Regions from separate parts of the Homo sapiens genome. Here region 1 is linked to region 2. The links come from fine-mapping of genetic effects on gene expression. A gene starts in region 2. The other region holds a variant in brackets. All regions are shown on one strand. Distances are from middle to middle.

Region 1 (8,000 bases), 81 kb after region 2:
GTTTGGGCCATGACTGTAAATATGCCAGGTCTTGGATCTCTAAGCATCTGATGAAAGCTATGGGACCAGACCTTAAGTACACACACACACACACACACACACACACACACACACACACACAGCTGAACACAAAAGTCTTCATGTAATTTTAGTAGGTTCTTGGTCCCTCTAAAGGCTCATTATGGTATCCAAAGGACCCTAGATTAAAGACCTTTGTTACAGATATTTGGAAAAGCTTCCAGGCCATTAAGAATTACTAGGCTGGGCATAGTGGCTCACCCTTATAATTCTAGCACTTTGGGAGGCCGAGGCAGGTGGACTGCTTGAGCCCAGGAGTTTGAGACTGGTCAGGGCAACATGGTGAAACCCCGTCTCTACTAAAAATACAAAAAAATTAGCTGGGTGTGGTGACACACCCCTGTAGTCCCAGCTACTTGGGAGGCTGAGGCACAACAATTGCTTGAACCCTGAACGTGGAGGTTGCAGTGAGCCAAGATCATGCCACTGCACTCCAGCCTGAGCAACAGAGTGAGACTCGGTCTCAAAAAAAAAAAAAAAAAATTAAATATGTATTTGGGGGGATGGGACGCAAGTGAACGGAGATACTAGATTACTATATATACTCAAACTAAGTGACCATTTGGCCTATAATTGGCCAGATAATGGGCCTATGAACTGGCAAGAGTACTGAATTGTTCTAATGAACACAGGACTGATCTATTAAGCCAATTTGTAGATTCCTTAAATCTTAACATAATGTGCTGGGCTTTACTGAACTGTGGGTGATGGCACTGGTCATTCAAAAAGCTGAGTCTTCCTGCACACTTTTCACACACACACACACACACACACACACACACACACACACATTTTACTTCAACTGCCAAATGAACTGAATAAATATTACTTTAGGCCGTTGAGCTTTCCCTAGAAAAAAGTGGCAACGTAGAAATTCTAAAGAGCTAAGATACCAATTCCTTTCAATTATGATAAACCCTAACCTGCTTAAAAACACTCTGGGGACACACTTCTACTCTTCTTACTGTAAGAGAAAGATCAGAGGAAAATCATGCAGAAAAAAAACAAAAAACAAAAAACTGTGAAATTCTTTCCCATTAAGCAATGGTAAGGTCAGAAATATGCTGAAATAAACGGTTTTAGCCTAATTTTCACCAGATAAAAAGTTGGGAAAAGTTTCTATTTCTCGAAATAAGAGAGAATGTAATTCAGATTCTTTGGAGAAAGTGGAATATTACCTATAAACTCAACAGTAAAGAGCACTAAACACTGATATTCTTCATAAATCTCTGCTTATCAATATGTGGATGAAAAAAGGGACTAAGTAAAGACACTGTCTTTTTTTTTTTTTTTTTTTTTGAGATGGAGTCTCACTCTGTCGCAAGCTCTGCCTCCTGGGTTCACGCCATTCTCCGGCCTCAGCCTCCCGAGTAGCTGGGACTACAGGCATCCGCCACCACACTCAGCCAATTTTTTTGTATTTTCAGTAGAGACGGGGTTTCACTGTGTTACCCAGGATGGTCTTGATCTCCTGACCTTGTGATCCACCTGCCTCGGCCTCCGGAAGTGCTGGGATTACAGGTGTAAGCCACCACACCTGGCCATAAAGACACTATCTTATTTTATTTTTAGGAAAATAACTAATTAGGGTAACCAATTAGGGTCTAACCCTTATAGGTCAGGTGAGCACTACTGTGGTTATGTAAAACAAAGTAGAGGTAAAACAGATATTATCTAAACCAATTAAGTTTGTGGCGGTTGAATACATAGTAAATTTTAATATACATGGTTCCTTTCCCTGGAATCAACACACACCAGGACACTCCCTCAAATGGGAAAAACCTCATCTATAATAGGTATATATATTATAAGTTTTCAGGTCCTTGTAAATTTTCTATACTCTTCTTAAAGCTGAAGAAAATATGCTCAACAAATATAGCCAAAATGAACTCAGAGAGCAATTAACTTTCATCAAATTAGAAAATGTAATTAAACTTCTCTTTAGTATTTCTGGACAAGCCAATTTATTCTTTACTTTAGAGTACATGTGATATGGTTTGGCTCTCTGTCCCCACCCCAATCTCATGTTGAATTGTAATCCCCAATGTTGGGGGAAGGACCTGGTGGGAGGTGATTTGATCATGGAGGCAGATATCCCCCTTGCTGTTCTTGTGATAATGAGTCCTCACAAGATCTGGTTGTTTGAAAGTGTGTAGTGATAGGTTCCAAGGTGGCCGAATAGGAACAGATCCAGTCTACAGCTCCCAGCATGAGTGATGCAGAAGACTGGTGATTTCTGCATTTCCAACTGAGGTACTGGGTTCATCTCACTGGGGCTTGTCGGACAGTGGGTGCAGCCCACAGAGTGTGAGCCGAAGCAGGGCAGGGAATCACCTCACTCAGGAAGCACAAGGGGTTGGGGAATTCCCTTTCCTAGCCAAGGGAAGCTGTGACAGACTGTACCTGGAAAATCAGGACACTCCCACCCTAATACTGTGCTTTTCCAATGGTCTTTGCAAATGGCACACCAGATTATATCCCGCGCATGGCTCAGAGGGTCCCATGCCCACGGAGCCTCACTCACTGTTAGCACAGCAGTCTGAGATTGAACTGCAAGGCAGCAGTGAGGCTGGGGGAGGGGCGCCCACCACTGCTGAGGCTTGAGTAGGTAAACAAAGCCACCGGGAAGCTCGAACTGGGTGGAGCCTACCTCTGGGGGCAGGGCATAGCTGAACAAAAGGCAGCAGAAACTTCTGCAGACTTAAACGTCCCTGTCTGACAGCTTTGAAGAGAGTAGTGGTTCTGCCAGCATGGAGTTTGAGATCTGAGAACGGACAGACTACCTCCTGAAGTGAGTCCCTGACCCCCGAGTAGCCTAACTGGGAGGCACCTCCCTGTAGGGGCCAACTGACACCTCATACAGCTGGGTGCCCCTCTGAGATGAAGCTTCCAGAGGAAGGATCGGGCAGCAACATGTACCATTCTGCAATATTTGCTGTTCTGCAGCCTCTGCTGGTGATACCCAAACAGGGTCTGGAGTAGACCCCCAGCAAACTCCAACAGACCTGCAGCTGAGGGTCCTGACTGTTAGAAGAAAAACTAACAAATAGAAAGGACATCCGCACCAAAACTCCATCTGTATGTCACCATCATCAAAGACCAAAGGTACATAAAACCACAAAGACGGGGAGAAACCAGAGCGGAAAAGCTGAAAATTCTACAAATCAGAGCACCTCTTCTCCTCCAAAGGAACGCAGCTCCTTGCCAGCAACGGAACAAAGCTGGAGGGAGAAAGACTTTGATGAGTTGAGAGAAGAATGCTTCAGACGATCAGTAATAACAAACTTCTCTGAGCTCAAGGAAGATGTTTGAACCCATTGCAAAGAAGCTAAAAACCTTGAAAAAAGATTAGACGAATGGCTAACTACATTAAATAGGGTAGAGAAGACCTTAACTGACCTGATGGAGCTGAAAATCATGGCACGAGGACTACGTGATGCATGCACAAGTTTCAGTAGCCGATTTGATCAAGTGGAAGAAAGGGTATCAATGA[T/C]TGAAGATCAAATGAATGAAATGAAGCAAAAAGAGAAGTTTAGAGGAAAAGGAGTGAAAAGAAATGAACAAAGCCTCCAAGAAATATTGGACTATGTGAAAAGGCCAAATCTACATCTGATTGGTGTACCTGAAAGTGATGGGGAGAATGGAACCAAGTTGGAAAACACTCTTCAGGATATTATCCAGGAGAACTTCCCCAACCTAGCAAGGCAGGCCAATATTCAAATTCAGGAAATACAGAGAATGCCACAAAGATACTCCTCGAGAAGAGCAACTCCAAGACACATAATTGTCAGATTCACCAAAGTTGAAATGAAGGAAAAAATGTTAAGGGCAGCCAGAGAGAAAGGTCAGGTTACCCACCAAAGGGAAGCCCATCAGACTAACAGCAGATCTCTCAGCAGAAACCCTATAAGCCAGAAGAGAGTGGGAGCCAATATTCAACATTCTTAAAGAAAAGAATTTTCAACCCAGAATTTCATATCCAGCCAAACTAAGCTTCATAAGTGAAGGAGAAATAAAATCTTTTACAGACAAACAAATGCTGACAGATTTTGTCATCACCAGGCCTGTCTTACAAGAGCTTCTGAAGGAAGCACTAAACGTGGAAAGGAATAACCAGTACCAGCCACTGCAAAAACAGGCCAAATTGTAAAGACCATCAAGGCTAGAAAGAAACTGCATCAACTAACGAGCAAAATAACCAGCTAACATCATAATGACAGGATCAAATTCACACATAACAATATTAACCTTAAATGTAAATGGGCTAAATGCTCCAATTAAAAGACACAGACTAGCAAATTGGATAAAGAGTCAAGACCCATCAGTGTGCTGTATTCAGGAAACCCATCTCATGTGCAGAGACACACATAGGCTCAAAATAAAGGGATGGAGGAAGATCTACCAAGCAAATGGAAAACAGAAAAAGGCAGGGGTTGCAATCCTAGTCTCTGATAAAACAGACTTTAAACCAACAAAGATCAAAAGAGACAAAGAAGGCCATTACATAATGGTAAAGGGATCAATTCAACAAGAAGAGCTAACTATCCTAAATATATATGCACCCAATACAGGAGCACCCAGATTCATAAAGCAAGTCCTGAGTTACCTAAAAAGAGACTTAGACTCACACGCAATAATAATGCAAAACTTTAACACCCCACTGTCAACATTAGACAGATCGACGAGACAGAAAGTTAACAAGGATATCCAGGAATTGAACTCAGCTCTGCACCAAGCAGACCTAATAGACATCTACAGAACTCTCCACCCTAAATCAACAGAATATACATTCTTCTCAGCACCACACTGCACTTATTCCAAAATTGACCACACAGTTGGAAGTAAAGCACTCCTCAGTAAATGTAAAAGAACAGAAATTATAACAAACTGTCTCTCAGACCACAGTGCAATCAAACTAGAACTCAGGATTAAGAAACTCACTCAAAACCGCTCAACTACATGGAAACTGAACAACCTGCTCCTGAATGACTACCAGGTACATAACGAAATGAAGGCAGAAATAAAGATGTTCTTTGAAACCAATGAGAACAAACACACAACATACCAGAATCTCTGGGACACATTTAAAGCAGTGTGTAGAGGGAAATTTATAGCACTAAATGCCCACAAGAGAAGGCAGGAAAGATCTAAAATTGATACCCTAACATCACAATTAAAAAAATTAGAGAAGCAAGAGCAAACACATTCAAAACCTAGCAGAAGGCAAGAAATAACTAAGATCAGAGCAGAACTGAAGGAGATAGAGATACAAAAAACCCTTCAAAAAAATCAATGAATCCAGGAACTGGTTTTTTGAAAAGATCAACAAAATTGATAGACCACTAGCAAGACTAAGAAGAAAACAGAGAAGAATCAAATAGATGCAATAAAAAATGATAAAGGGGATATCGCCACTGATCCCACAGAAATAGAAACTACCATCAGAGAATACTATAAACACCTCCATGCAAATAAACTAGAAAATCTAGAAGAAATGGATAAATTCCTGGATACATACACCCTCCCAAGACTAAACCAGGAAGAAGCTGAATCCCTGAATAGACCAATAAGAGGCTCTGAAATTGAGGCAATAGCCTACCAACCAAAAAAAGTCCAAGACTAGATGGATTCACAGCCAAATTCTACCAGAGGTACAAAGAGGAGCTGGTACTATTCCTTCTGAAACTATTCCAATCAATAGAAAAAGAGGGAATCCTCCCTAACTCATTTTATGAGGCCAGCATCATCCTGATACCAAAGCCTGGTAGAGACACAACAAAAAAAGAGAATTTTAGACCAATATCCCTGATGAACATCGATGCAAAAATCCTCAATAAAATACTGGCAAACCAAATCCAGCAGCACATCAAAAAGCTTATCCACCACGATCAAGTTGGCTTCATCCCTGGGAGGCAAGGCTGGTTCAATATATGCAAATCAATAAACGTAATCCAGCATATAAACAGAACCAAAGACAAAAACCACATGATTATCTCAATAGATGCAGAAAAGGCCTTTGACAAAATTCAACAGCCCTTCATGCTAAAACCTCTCAATAAACTAGGTATTGATAGGACATATCTCAAAATAATAAGAGCTATTTATGACAAAACCACAGCCAATATCATACCGAAAGGCAAAAACTGGAAGCATTCCCTTTGAAAACTGGCACAAGACAGGGATGACCTCTCTCACCACTCCTATTTAACATAGTGTTGGAAGTTCTGGCCAGGGCAATCAGGCAGGAGAAAGAAATAAAGGGTATTCAATTAGGAAAAGAGGAAGTCAAATTGTCCCTGTTTGCAGATGACATGATTGTATATTTAGAAAACCCCATCGTCTCAGCCCAAAATCTCCTTAAGCTGATAAGCAACTTCAGCAAAGTCTCAGGATACAAAATCAATGTACAAAAATCACAAGCATTCCTATACACCAATAACAGACAAACAGAGAGCCAAATCATGAGTGAAATCCCATTCACAATTGCTTCAAAGAGAATAAAATAGCTAGGAATCCAACTCACAAGGGATGTGAAGGACCTCTTCAAGGAGAACTATAAACCACTGCTCAATGAAATAAAAGAGGATACAAACAAATGGAAGAACATTCCATGCTCATGGGTAGGAAGAATCAATATCGTGAAAATGGCCATAGTGCCCAAGGTAATTTATAGATTCAATGCCATCCCCATCAAGCTACCAATGACTTTCTTCACAGAATTGGAAAAAACTACTTTAAAGTTCATATGGAACCAAAAAAGAGCCTGCATTGCCAAGTCAATCCTAAGCCAAAAGAACAAAGCTGGAGGCATCACACTACCTGACTTCAAACTATACTACAAGACTACAGTAACCAAAACAGCATGGTACTGGTACCAAAACAGAGACAGAGAACAATGGAACAGAACAGAGCACTCAGAAATAATAACACACATCTACAACCATCTGATCTTTGACAAACCTGACAAAAACAAGAAAGGGAGAAAGAATTCCCTATTTAATAAATGGTGCTGGGAAAACTGGCTAGCCATATGTAGAAAGCTGAAACTGGATCCCTTCCTTACACCTTATACAAAAATTAATTCAAGATGGATTAGAGACTTAAATGTTAGACCTAAAACCATAAAAACCCTAGAAGAAAACCTAGGCTATACCATTCAGGACATAGGCATGGGCAAGGACTTCATGACTAAAACACCAAAAGCAATGGCAACAAAAGCCAAAATTGACAAATGGGATCTCATTAAACTAAAGAGCTTCTGCACAGCAAAAGAAACTACCATCAGAGTGAACAGGCAACCTACAGAATGGGAGAAAATTTTCACAGTCTATCCATCTGACAAAGGGCTAATATCCAGAATCTACAAAGAACTTAAACAAATCTACAAGAAAAAATCAAACAACCCCATCAAAAAGTGGGCAAAGGATATGAACAGACACTTCTCAAAAGAAGACATTCATGCAGAAGACACGTGAAAAATGCTCATCATCACTGGCAGTCGGAGAAATGCAAATCAAAACCACAATGAGATACCATCTCACACCAGTTAGAACGGTGATCATTAAAAAGTCAGGAAACAACAGGTGCTGGAAAGGATGTGGAGAAACAGGAACACTTTTACACTGTTGGTGGGACTGTAAACTAGTTCAACCATGTGGAAGACAGTGTGGCGATTCCTCAAGGATCTAGAACTAGAAATAGCATTTGACCCAGCAATCCCATTACTGGGTATATACCCAAAGGATTATAAATCATGCTGCTATAAAGACACATGCGCACGTATGTTTATTGTGGCACTATTCACAATAGCAAAGACTTGGAACCAACCCAAATGTCCAACGATGATAGACTGGATTAAGAAAATGTGGCACATATACACCATGGAATACTATGCAGCCATAAAAAGGATGAGTTCATGTCCT
Region 2 (12,337 bases):
TATATGTTAATATTAGCTTTTTAAAATCAGGATCCAGAGCCAGGCATGGTGGCATGCACTTGTAATGTAACCTCCAAGCTACTCGAGAGGCTGAGGCAGGAGGATTACTTGAGGTTGGGAGCTGGAGGCTGCAGTGAGCTATGACTGCGCCACTGCACTCCAGCCTGGGTGACAGAGAGAGCCCCTGTCTCTTTAAAAAATAATAATAATCAGGATCCGAATGAGGTCTGCATGATGAGACTGTGATATGTTTCTTCAGTTTTTCATCTGTAGGACTGGTACTCATTCTCTCTGTCTTCCATGTGGTGTTTTTGTTGAAGCTGGGTCCCTTTACCTGTAGGAGAGCTTCCTATAATGTGTAGCATGCTCCTTGTCCCCTGAATCCTATAAATTCATAGTTGTATCCAGAGGCTTGATCTAATTCAGTTTTGATTTTTTTCACACAACAGCACATTGGAGATGCTATTGGAAATTTCTGGGAGGCACGTGGTCTGGTGAATTTCCTTTTGTAATACTGGCAGTCATTGATATTCAATGACTTTAAGGTAGTATTTTTTTTTTTTTTTTGAAACATGGTCCCTCTCTGTCTCCCAGGCTAGAGTGCAGTGGCTCAATTATAGCTCACTGCAGCCTTGACCTCCAGGCTCAAGCAATCCTCCTATCTCAGCCTCCCAAGTAGCTGGGACCACAGGTGCCCACCACCAGCTCAGGCTAATTTTTTTTGTAGAGATGAGGTTTCACTCTGTTGCGCCGGCTGGTCTTGAACTCCTGGGCTCAAGCGATCCTCCTGATCTCCCTGTCTTGGTCTCCCAAAGTGCTGGAATTACAAGCATGAGCCACCACGCCCAACCCTTAAGGTAGTATTTTTAGTTACAGTAAAAACCTTCCGTATTCACCCTGTTACAAGTGGTGCCTAGTTTGGTGTTGGGTGGAAAACTACCCATCTCAGGGCATTGTTTTTCCTTTTTCTTGCTTTTTCTTGATTGTAGCTGGTTTTCCTCCTCTGTTAATTATTTGGGTAGTATATTTTCATTAGAGAAAAATTGAAAAGCAGATCTAAACAAAAAGATAAATATTAAAATAAAACTGTGCCAAATTCTATCACCTAGTGATAACTCCTAAGATTTGGGACATTTTCTTCCCGATTTTCTTGTATGCAAAAAAATACAGGCATCCCTGTGACATCGTTAAAAAAGAAAGGGGTCACACTTCACATGCAGTTCTAGGAGCTGCTATTTTCAATTTGTGGTATGTCTGAAGCCCCCTTTGAGGATCTGGTGGGAGGGACATGGCCTTCCTCCCTGCCTGTCCATGGGTCACACTGGGCCGGGTGCAGGGAAGGACAGGCGGCCTCTGGTGCGGCCCAGCTGCCAAGTTTTTCAAAGGAAATAAGGGCTTTTGGTTGGCAGGGCGGTTGCTTTCACATCTGTTCTTTTAGGATTCTCTGCTGTTACTCAACACACCATGACCCCAGCTGCCCCTTTCCTTCTCCAAAGCCCCGTCTCCCAGGCGTGGCAGAGATCGGGGCCCTGGGGATCATGGGAGTCAGGCCCCTGCCCTTGAGTGGGCTTTGTCGCTTACATGAAGTCGGGCTGTTCATCTTTCCTTGTTGTGGCATTGGAACTCAGCCAAGCAGCAGCGATTTAGGAGGGGCAGTAGCCGCAGGGTGCCGGGTTTAATGGGAAAGATGCTGTTTACTTAGAATATGTGTTCATTTGGAGTGGCTTTGGGGCTTACCCCAGGCCACCCCTTAGGACCACCACTGATTAGGGGTCAGAAGGCGCTAGTGGACCCGGGCATTTTCTTATGTTCCTAGCCTGCACAGGAACAGATCCCTGCACATCCCTGAGCCCACAGCTGAGAAGAGATGTGGGCAGAGGCCTGGAGGAGGTGGGTGGATGCACTGGAATGTTCCCCGCCTCCCAGCGTGAAAGATGCATCTGGGAGGAGGGGGAGTGTCTCCATCGAGCTGTGCTGCCTCTGCGAGTCCCTCTCCCTGGGGAGCTCACCTCAGTCCCAAGTGTGGAAGAGCTGGGGGGCGTGAAACCACACGGAGTCAGCCCTGCTCTGTCCTCCCACGTAGGGTGAGCAGGAGGGGACGCTCACACGGCTGGCTGCACTGTGTTATTGTTGGGAGTATCTGGGTACAGGTCAATCTGGCAGAAATGTCGTGAGGTCCTGTGGTGCTGGGGAGAGGTGGTCCTTGCCCTCAGCCAGATGGGTCTGATGGAGGAGAAGACAGGACCTTCAGTCACTCCTGAGCAGGGAGGGTGCTGCATGAATAAGTTCAGGTTCTTTGAGCTGCAAGTACCAGAAACCCACTGTAACCAAAGGGAAAGGGAGAAAGAGAGGACTTGAGACTTTGTGGGGATTCAGGCATGGCTGGATCCAGGGGCTCAAATGGTATCATGAAGACTCTGCTTCTCTCTCCATTTCTCTGTCTTGGCTTCCTTTTCAGGCCAGTTCTTCCACAGAGAGGTTGTATTTGTAATCTATTGCTGTGTAACAAATTATTCCAATTACCTCATAATTTCTGTAGGTCAGGAGTTCAGGCTGAGCTGGGTGCTTCTGGCTGGGGTTCTCTGATGAGGTTGCAATCAAGCTGCCTGTCAAGCTGCAGTCATCTGAAGGCTTGACTGGGGCTGGAGGGTCTGCCTCCAAGGCAGCTTTGTCACATGCAGGGTGGGTTGGTGCTGGCTGCTGGCGGGAGGCCTCCGTTCCTCGAACACAGATCCCTCCTTGGGGCTGCTTGAGTGTCCTCGAGCCATGGTGTCTGGCTTCCCCTAGAGGGAGAGATCCAAAGGAAAGCTGAGTGGAAGCTTCTGAGATCTTTCATGATCTCAGAAGCCGCATATTGTGGTTTCCACGATATTTTATTGGTCACACAGGTGGTGTGGGAGGGGACCATTCACAGACATGAGTGCCAGGGGACAAGGGTCACTGGAGGCTGACTGCCACTGTGGCAAAGATGGCCCCAGTGGCTCGTAGCTCACACCTACTGCCAAGTGAATGAGAACACTTTCCCACAGTCCCAACAAAAGTCCTGGAAGTGAATTTCACAGGACCACCTGAGTCTCACACCCATTCCTCCATATACGCTAGTTGTGAGTCCACCCCTGCAGGGCTGGTTCCCCATAGGAACAGGGAGCTGTTACCAAAAGTGGACATGACATCCTCTGTGGAGAGGTCTATGGCATTGTGGCCTAGAGGAGGTGATGGTGGGGCACTGGGGAAGGCTTCCTGGTAGAGGCGGCACCAGTACCTGGCGGGATGGGTAGCATTTTGAGCATTCCAGGGACACTAAGGCCTGAGCAAAGAAATGGAAGAGTCAGGCAGCTGGGTAGCAGGTGGAGGCAGATAAGGATGGAAAAGTGAGTTGGGCCAGGTGGGGGTCCCCGAGAGGCAGGAGGAGGAGGCAGGACTTGCCTCTGGAGGCACAGGCAAGCCATGGAAGTTGTTTGAAGGAGGGGCAGGCACGTCGCAGAGCCTAGGGATTTAGGGTTTAGAGCGGGGAGAACGCCTGGCTGGCCTCCTCCCTGCTGGCTTGCACCCAGCACCCACCATGTGCCTTGTCGGCATTTCTCACAGCCCCCCACGGGCTCCCAGCAGAGTGGGCCACATCTCCTGACTTTACAGAGGGACTCCCTGAGCCACCAGGGTCCCCTAGCTCCGCCAAAGTCTCTCCCTGGAGCCCCTGACTCCAGAGCTCTCAGACAGGAATAATAGCAGGACCTTCCTGAAGGCTCCTCTTCATCCTGCCAGGACGATAGGCGAGGTTGGCGACAAGTGGCCAGCCCAATTGCTCAGACCCTCCCAGGGCTCCTCCCGGTGCCGTGAACCCCCGACCTTAGGGGAAGGAAGAGGTGACTGTGGCATGGACGGTGGTTTTTGTTCTCATATCCCCTGGCCCCTACAGAGACGTGCCCAGAGTTCCAAGCCCACTGGGTGCTGGGGCTTTCCTTCCCCCAGTAAGGGCTCGACATCTAGGTTTGTGTGGCAGGGCCAAGCTGTTTGCTCAGCACTCAGTGTTATTTGTCCCTTGGCTGACTGACAGCTTGACTGTCTGCTTCGTTTTGGCTGCAGTTTGAGTCTCTCCTACTGACTGTTTCATGGCCTCATCTTGAGCCCCCATTGTTGCCCAGGGTAGGAAGTCCTTCTCCCCTAAACTCTGGGCCACATATGCCTGGACCCTGCTGGGTACTTCTCCTCAGATCTCTTTTTTTTTTTTTTTGAGACAGGGTCTCACTTTGTCACCCAGGCTGGAGTGCAGTGGTGTGATCTCAGCTTACTGCAACCTTTGCTTCCTAGGCTCAAGCGATCCTCCCACCTCAGCCTCCCGAGTAGCTGGGATTCAGGTGCCCGCCACAATGCCTGGCTAATTTTTGTATTCCTCCCACCTCAGCCTCCTGCGTAGCTGGGATTCAGGCGCCTGCCCTCAAGCCCGGCTAATTTTTGTATTTTTATTAGAGACGGGGTTTCACCATGTTGGCCAGGCTGGTCTCGAACTCCTGGCCTCAAGTGATCCACCCTCCTCAGCCTCCCAAAGTACTGGGATTACAGGTGTGAGCCACCATGCCCTGCCGGCTTCTCCCCAGAGCTTTATGCCATGCCTTTGATGGGCACCTCTTACCTCCTCCCAGCCTAGGAACTTGCATGAAAGGGAACTATGTCCAAGTCAGTTTTGTGTCCCTAGCACCAGGGAAGAGGATGGGGGTTGCTGAGAGGGACAGGAAAGGATTGGGGTTGTGCTGTGTGCCCTGGCGCCTCTACCAAGCAGAAACCAGCCTTCCCTGTCTGCTACTGTGAAAGCCCAAGGTTGCCCTTCTTTGGGGGAGTTGAAAGAAAGCGGGTGTTTGTTCAGCACACTTGGGAGCACTGTGTGCCAGGGCTGGGAGATCTTGGGTGAGGGTACTCACCATGCTCATTACCTTGTAATGGGGTTAGGGGTAGCCTGTCCCTATGGAAGCTTGTCCTTGTTCCCAGGGAGGGTCAGGAGCATGGGTTGTGAAGTCAGGTAGATCTGAGCTTGAATCCTGGCTCTGCCTTTTCATAGCTGTGTGTGCTTGGGCCAGCAATGTGGTGTCTCTGAGCCTTGGTGCCTTATTCTACAGAGGGATGATAGCAGGGCCTTCCTCAGTGGGGCTGCCAGGGAGTGCCATGAGGCTGTGTGTGTAAAGTCCTGGGTGATGCCTGTGTGGATCCCAGGGAGCATTGACCTGTGTGTGCTCAGATCCTGCCTGCCGGGACCTCCTAGACAGCGTGAGGGGTGGGGTGTCAAGTGGTGGCTGGTGGCTGCGGCTGCGGGGAGCAGCTGGTTTGAGGCAGTGCTGAGGCTGCAGCAGGGAAGAGACTCACCGCCACATCTTCCAAGGAGAAAGCTGGGCGGGCAGCCTGGGAGGGCAGGAGGTATTGCTCAGTGGGACAGGAACCTTGATTATCAAACGGCAGGGTTTACTGTGCCCCTCTCATTATCAAACTGCAGGGTTTGTTATCATACAGCCTCTGCTGTATGGCCAGTTTATCTTCACACACTCCCTGCTCTATGGCCGGTGCTGGAAAGCCCAGGGCCCCATAAGCTCCCAGCAGGCAGTGGGGAACCCCCCTCCTGTGTCCAGGCATCTACATGTGTCCTCTCCAAGCTGCCCCTTTTCTCAAGCCGAGATCATCTTGCAGAAATGTTGGTCAGGGTGGGTCGCTCCCCACCTGCCATTCCCCTGGACTTGCCCTGCCTCCTATGCCCCTTCCCCTTGGCCCCCGATATCTCCCCCAGCGGCTCCATCTCCACGCCGCGCTTTCCTCAGGGTTTGAGCATGTGTCTCATCAGCCTCTCGCCCACTGGGCCAGGTCAGATCTGTTCTTTTTCCTGAATCTACTGAGCATCCAGCACCATGCCCTCCTGCATACGCAAACGGGTATCCCTCAATACCCATTTAAAAATGGACGGGTAATTTACATACAGGCAAGTGCACAAACCTTCAATGTACAGGGTAATGAGTGTACTTAGGCACTCGCCTGTATAACCAGCACCCACAGGGAGATTTAGAACCTCCTCAGCCCCCAGAAGTTTCCTGTGTGCCCCTTTCCAATCAGCGGCCTCCCTAGAGGCAACCGCTGTCTTGCTGTCTGTCACTGTAGATTAGTTTCATCATTTCTGAAGTTTCATATAAATGGAAACGTGCTGAATGTGTCTTTTGTGGGTGGGTCTTTCACTGTCCTTGCCATCTTGGATATTCATTCATGTTGTGTGTTAGCAGTGATCTGTTCCTTTTTACTGCTGAGTAATTTTCTGTTGTGTGAATATATGAAAATTTGTTTATCCATTTACTCATTGCAGGATGTTTGGGTTTGCAGTTTGACTGTTAGGATGAAAGCTTCTCTGAACACTTGGATAGAAGTCATTTGTGGACACATGTACTCATTTCTTTTGGGTAAATACCTGAGATTGAATTGCTGAGTCATTGGGGAAGCATATGGTTTGCTTTTGTCCACACTGCCAGGCAGTTTTCATCATGGTGGCTCCATTTTACATTCCCACTAGCAGTACATGAGAGTGAAGAGCTGCTTCTCCTCCTTGTCAACACTTGGTATTTTCATTTTAATTTTAGCCATTCTAGTGGTACAGTGGAATCTCTATATGGTTTTAATTTGCTGGTGGCTAATGATGTTGAGTATCTTTTTCATGTGCTTATTGGTCATTTTGGCATCCTCTTTGTTGAAGTACCTGTGTAAGTCTCTTGTTCATCTTTTAATTGGGCCATTTGTCTTTTTCTTATTGGTTTGTGGGAGGTCTTTTTTTTTTTTTTTTTTTCTGAGACAGAGTCTCACTCTGTTGCCCAGGCTGGAGTGCAGTGGTGTGATCTCGGCTCACTGCAACCTCTGCCTCCCAGGTTCAAGTGATTCTCCTGCCTCAGCCTCCCAAGTAGCTGGGATTACAGGCTCATGCCACCACGCCTGGCTAATTTTTGTGCTTTTAGTAGAAACGGGATTTTGCCATGTTAGCCAGGCTGGTTTCAAACTCCTGACATCAGGTGATCCGCCCACCTTAGCCTCCCAAAGTGCTGGGATTACAGGCATGAGCCACCATGCCAAGCCTGGGAGATCTTTATATATGCTAGGGAGGAGTCTTTTGTCAGTCATATAGGATGTGACTTTCTCCTAGTCAGTGGCTTGTCTTTCCCCTCTTTTGATGATGATGATGTCTGTTCCTTCTCTGCTCTGGGACATTTGCTAGGGAGACATTTGCTGATAGGAGGGCGACCCTGATGGGGAGGATCCCCTGAGGTCTCCCACTCCCTCCTGTGGCCTCTGGAGCAGCCTGGAACCCTGTGTGAGTCCTATGCCTGTCTCCACCAGATGGCAGACCTTAGATCACCTGCTAGTTCCCTGCATGGGGCCTGGCACAGAGACAGCACCTAACATGTTCAGTTCCTCCTGATCAGTATGTGTGGGATGTCTACTCTGTGACCAGCTGGGGCTGGACGCTGGGGACACAGCTGTTGATATTACAGCTGCCCTCCCATCTCTGCCCTCCTCAAGGATATAACCTAGGAAAGACAGACCAGCAACCAGTGGTCACAGCACAGAGGTGCTGTGATGGAGGAAGGTGCAGGGGTTAGAAGACCAGAAGAGGGGTGTCTGACCCTGGATGTGGGAGGTGGAGGAGGTACACCATTGCTTTGAGGAGCTCGTAATCCCAGGATGCCAGTCACATGCTCAGAAGGGCTCCCTGAGGACCAGGTGCTGCTGTGGCCAGCGGGCTGGAGGCCTCCCCCTCTGTTTTGGGAGTCTCCACTCTCTCCTCTTAGCCTCTCCTGATCTGCTCCCTCGCCACTGAGCGCCCCATGATCCCAGTGGGGAAACTGAGGCCTGGCATAGCAGAAGGGGTGCTGGGGTTTGATTCCCAGCCTCATGGTGCCCAGGGATGTTGGGGGCTCTCCAGGGACTCTGATTTTGGAATAGGAGCCCCAAGGATGGGCCTGCCCCTGCCCTGCTCCCAGCATGGGAGCGTAGGTGAGATGGAGAGGCAGTGGGCTGGGCTGGAAGATCTTTGACCTCTCCTGGGCCCCTCTCAGAGGTGGACGGGGCCACCTTACTACATAGATAGGGAAATTGAGTCCCAGGAAGGCGCGGGGGGCCTGTCTGTGAGCGTCAGAGCCCACAGGAGGCTCAGGCCAGGCCGCTAATTGCTAATTGCTCACTAAGGATGCATTTGCTCCCCACTTTGAACAGTTGTCTTGGGGCTTCTAATGGAGGTTTTTGGTGCTTGTTTTATTATTATTTTTTCAAAATTGTTCCAGCTTCAAGCTTCAAATTTCCATGAAGTCATTGGAGCCCGACAGCTCCCAGGCCTGGCAGCTCCCAGGCTGCGGAGAGCAGCACTGTGGCTGGGGGAGGGGGCCCTGCACACCCCGAGAGGCTGGGCTGTGGGCTGTGCCTTAGCCTTGCTGCCGCCGCCGCCGCTGCTGCCGCTGCCGGAGCAGGAAGTGGTGGGTCCCAGATGTGACTCACTCTCATTAGGTAGCGTGGAAGGAGCCTTCGGATGGGTGAGCCTGGGCGCGTCTGAGGAAGGGCAGGCGGGGGCCGGGCCACCTCCCTGCAGACCCTGGCCGGCTGCTGGGGCCGGGGAGGAGAGCCAGGTAAAAGTGGGGTGTGGGGATGGAGTGTCACCAGTCCTAGTGGCTTGAGCCCCAGGGGACGGGGCTGGACAGTGGGTGGGAAGCAGCTCACCCGGCAGCCTGGCCTGGGAGTGCACTGGGCAGGGTCTGGGCTGGGGGAGTAGGAGGCTCCGTGAGCCTACTGGGCAGATGGCTGGGAGAGGCGGCCCTTCAACAGGGGACCAGAGGCGACTTGTCACTGGCTTTTCCCAGCCTGACAAGAAAGTGCGGTTGTGACCACAATGTTGTACATGTGGCCCGTTCCATCTGGAATTCTAGGAACCACAGACTCTCAAATGTCCACACTCCTTCTCGAGGGTGTAATTTTACATTTACAAGCACACATGACTTTTCTCAATGAAAGGAAACATTGGCAAGGGAAGGCCAATTCAACTAATTTTATGAAATTATAAAACAAAAAACAAACAAAACCTCTGAAAGGAGTGCATGCCTGAGGGTCAGGAAACCAAGATGCCTCCAAAAAGCAGACTGGTTTCCCTTTCCCTGCAATGCCTCTCCTCTATCCCCCAGGGACCGCATGGGCCATCTGGAGTGGGTCTTTCTGGAGCGGGTCTTTCTGGAGCTTTCTATGCATTCATCTAAACATGTATGTACAGAGGGTGAGGCAGTTGCCTCTTCTCTGTGTCATCACATCAGGGTCAAGGGCAGGGACATCTGTGGCTGGGGGCTTCCTCCCTGGACAGCCATTGCTGGAGAGGAGAAGGGAGGGCCGGGAGGGGGAAGCCAAGGGCCTGGAGGTAGGGGCCAGGCCGAGCCACCTACGACAGGGGCCCTGGGTCCAAGGCCTGGACGGGCAGCCAGTGTGGGCTGGATGTGTCTGGAAGGGCTATGTGACCGTGGGCCTTCACTAGCATCACCATCTTGCAGATGGAGGCTGTGAGGGGTGGACTCAACACCAGTGTTTCTCGGAGTGAGGACCGGGCTGCCCAGGGAATCACAGGGGGTTCTAGCCTGTGTGTGGAAGGACATGTTTAAAATCTAAGTATTTGTCTTGGGGAAAAAAAAATCTGTAAATAGGACATTGCCATTGTGACATCATGACTGTATTATTGTCTTAGACGAGGCCAAAGGAGACATAAAAGTGACAAGCCAGCCAATTTGAGAGGAAGTGCCAAGTGCCAGCCCTGCAGGAAGTGCAGGAGGCTGAGGGGGCTGCAGCTCAGGAAGGCGTTTGCTGCACAGCCTTCGCTTCCCACCCAGTTGTCTGTCTTCCCACCTCCAGAGGCCCTGGGTTCCCAAGGTTTACCTGCAGCTCCTGGTGCAGAGTGTGGGGGAGGGGAGGCTCTCAGATTGTTCCAGATTCTGTGGCCCTCAGAAGGGCAGGTGTGAGCTTTGTGGAGGTAGCGTCTCCGGTGGTATTTTCTTTCTTTCTTATTTTTATTTATTATTATTTTTTGAGATGGAGTCTCTGTCTGTTGCCCAGGCTGGAGTGCAGTAGTGACCCTCTTGGGTCACTGTAACCTTTGCCTCCTGGGCTTAAGCCGTCCTCCTCCCTCAGCCTCCTGAGTAGCTGGGACTACAGTTACCACACCACTACACCTGGCTAATTTTTGTATTTTTAGTAAAGTAAAGACGGGGTTTCACCATGGTGGCCAGGCTGGTCTCAAACTCCTGACCTCAAATGATCCATCCACCTCGACCTCCCAAAGTGCTGGGATTATAGGTGTGAGCCACCACCCCCAGCCTCTTTTCTTTTTTTAAGACAGGATCTCACTCTGTCACCCATGCTGGAGTGCAGTGGAGTGGTCATAGCTCACTGCAACCTTGAACTCATGAGCTCAGGCAATCTTACCGCCTCAGCCTTCTAAAGTGCTGGGATTACAAGCATGAGCCCGACGCCCAGCCTTCTAGTGCTGTTTTCATGAAAGAAGCAGCTGTTTACTAGCAGCTGTTTTCCGGGTGATGAGGGTGAAGGTGGTATTGCAGAACATCTTTGCCAGGAGTAGGTCTGGGAGGTTTGCTTGAGGGCATGGAGGTTGGTGTAGGGAGAGCTCAGGAAGTAGAAATTGGGCTGGAGTGTGGCCTCTGGACAGGCCACAGGAGAGTCTCAAAAGGAGAAAAGATCCCAGCACTTTGGGAGGCCAAGGTGGGCGGATCACTTGAGCCCAGGGGTTCGAGACCAGCCTGGGCAACATGGCGAAACCCCGTCTCTACAAAAAATACAAAAATTAGCTGGGTGTGGTGGCGTGTGCCTGTAGTCCCAGCTACTTGGGAGGCTAAGGCAGGAGGATCCTTTGAGCCCAGGAGTTGGAGGCTGTAGTGAGCCATGACTGTGCCACTGCACTCCATCCAGCCTGGGTGACGGAATGAGACCCTGTCTCAAAATAAATAAATTTTTCAAAAGAGACAAAAGTCCGACTCGATGGTTGCACTGGGGACATGCACCCCACTCTACAATTTATAGCTACTGATTTGACCCATTCCCCACCTCCTCCACCGCTCCATATGGTAGGTGCCGTTCACCTCCAGTTTACAGAGGAGACAGGGCCCAGAGGGGCTGTCTATCCTGAATAACCCAGCAGATCGGTCCTCAGGCATCCAGTTGTGCCCACCACAGTGTGGTCTGCTGCCACATTTGAGCCTGGAGTCAGGGCCAGCACACTGTGTCTTTGGCGAGATCAGATGGGGCAAAGCTGAGAACAGGGGCTCTGGTTGGTGCTGAGGGATTCGTGGGGGTGGTCCTTACTGGGAAGATGAGGAATTGGGCTCCTGTGAGGGCCTCCCCTACCCTGCCCTGTGCCTGGACTTCGCTGGGCCCACTGCGGGAGAGAAGAGGTAGGACGAGGCCTTCTGCGTGGCTGGGCCAGGGTGGGCTGTCTCACGTGCTTTCCTGGATGTGTGGTTGGGTCATGCCTTAGCCAGGAGGTAGGTGGTTTGTCCACTCCCTGTCATTGCAAGGGTCACAGAGGTGGCTGGGTGGCCTGACCCTCAGCACCGCTCCTTGCCTCCCTCCTGCTGTCCTGGAGGAAGAGGATGTGGACTTGTTCATACTGAGGTGACACAGCATCCTCTCTCCTACCTCTCCCACTGCCCAGGGAGAGAGCAGCGCTTAACTCCGCTGGAGAAAGTTCCAGGCCTTTGAGGGAGCATGCAGAGTGGGTCACAGTGGATGCCTGTATCAGAGCAGCCCATTCTAGCCTTTCATGGGGTGGGAGGGAGGCATTTACTACTTTTAAAAGACACGTGTGGCCAGGCACCGTGGTTCACACCTGCAGTCCCAGCGCTTTGGGAGGCTGAAGTGGGCGGATCACTTGAGCTCAAGAGTTTGAGACCAGCCTAGGCAACATGGCACAACCCCAACTCTAGGAAAAAATTACAAATATTAGCCAGCATGGTGGTGCATGCCTGTAGTCCCAGCTACGCAGGAGGATTGCTTGAGCCCAGGAGGTGGAGGCTGCAGTGAGCTGAGATCATGCCACTGTACTCCACTCTGGGTAATAGAGCAAGACCCTGTCTCAGATAGATAGATAGATAGATAGATAGATAGATAGATAGATAGATAGATAGATAAACAGATAGATAGACACATGTAGCCAAGAGCTGGAAGTTAGTTGGAACTGGAGAATGAGACCACATCTGAACACCAGCCAGAGAAGCAGGGGTCTTCCAGAGGTTATCCGGTCCAGCATCCCGCCTCCAGGCAGAACTGGACTGTGCTCTGG

Evidence for each region. PIP is the estimated chance that this variant, and not a neighbour inherited with it, causes the effect.
Region 1: its variant is fine-mapped to the expression of ADCY7 in whole blood (INTERVAL, PIP above 0.99).

What each region holds. Positions count from the first base shown.
Region 1 is chr16:50,341,100-50,349,099 of GRCh38, forward strand. The region is part of intron 5 of BRD7 (bromodomain containing 7); the gene reads right to left. Among named protein-coding and RNA genes, the nearest start is that of BRD7, 24 kb to the right of the region's middle. The variant T/C (reference allele first, on the strand shown) is at 3,572.
Region 2 is chr16:50,258,045-50,270,381 of GRCh38, forward strand. ADCY7 (adenylate cyclase 7) reads left to right here and starts at 8,507. Exons shown (of 26, transcript NM_001114.5): 1 at 8,507-8,636. RefSeq lists enhancers at 4,101-4,170, 6,404-6,583, 7,651-8,244, 8,190-8,279.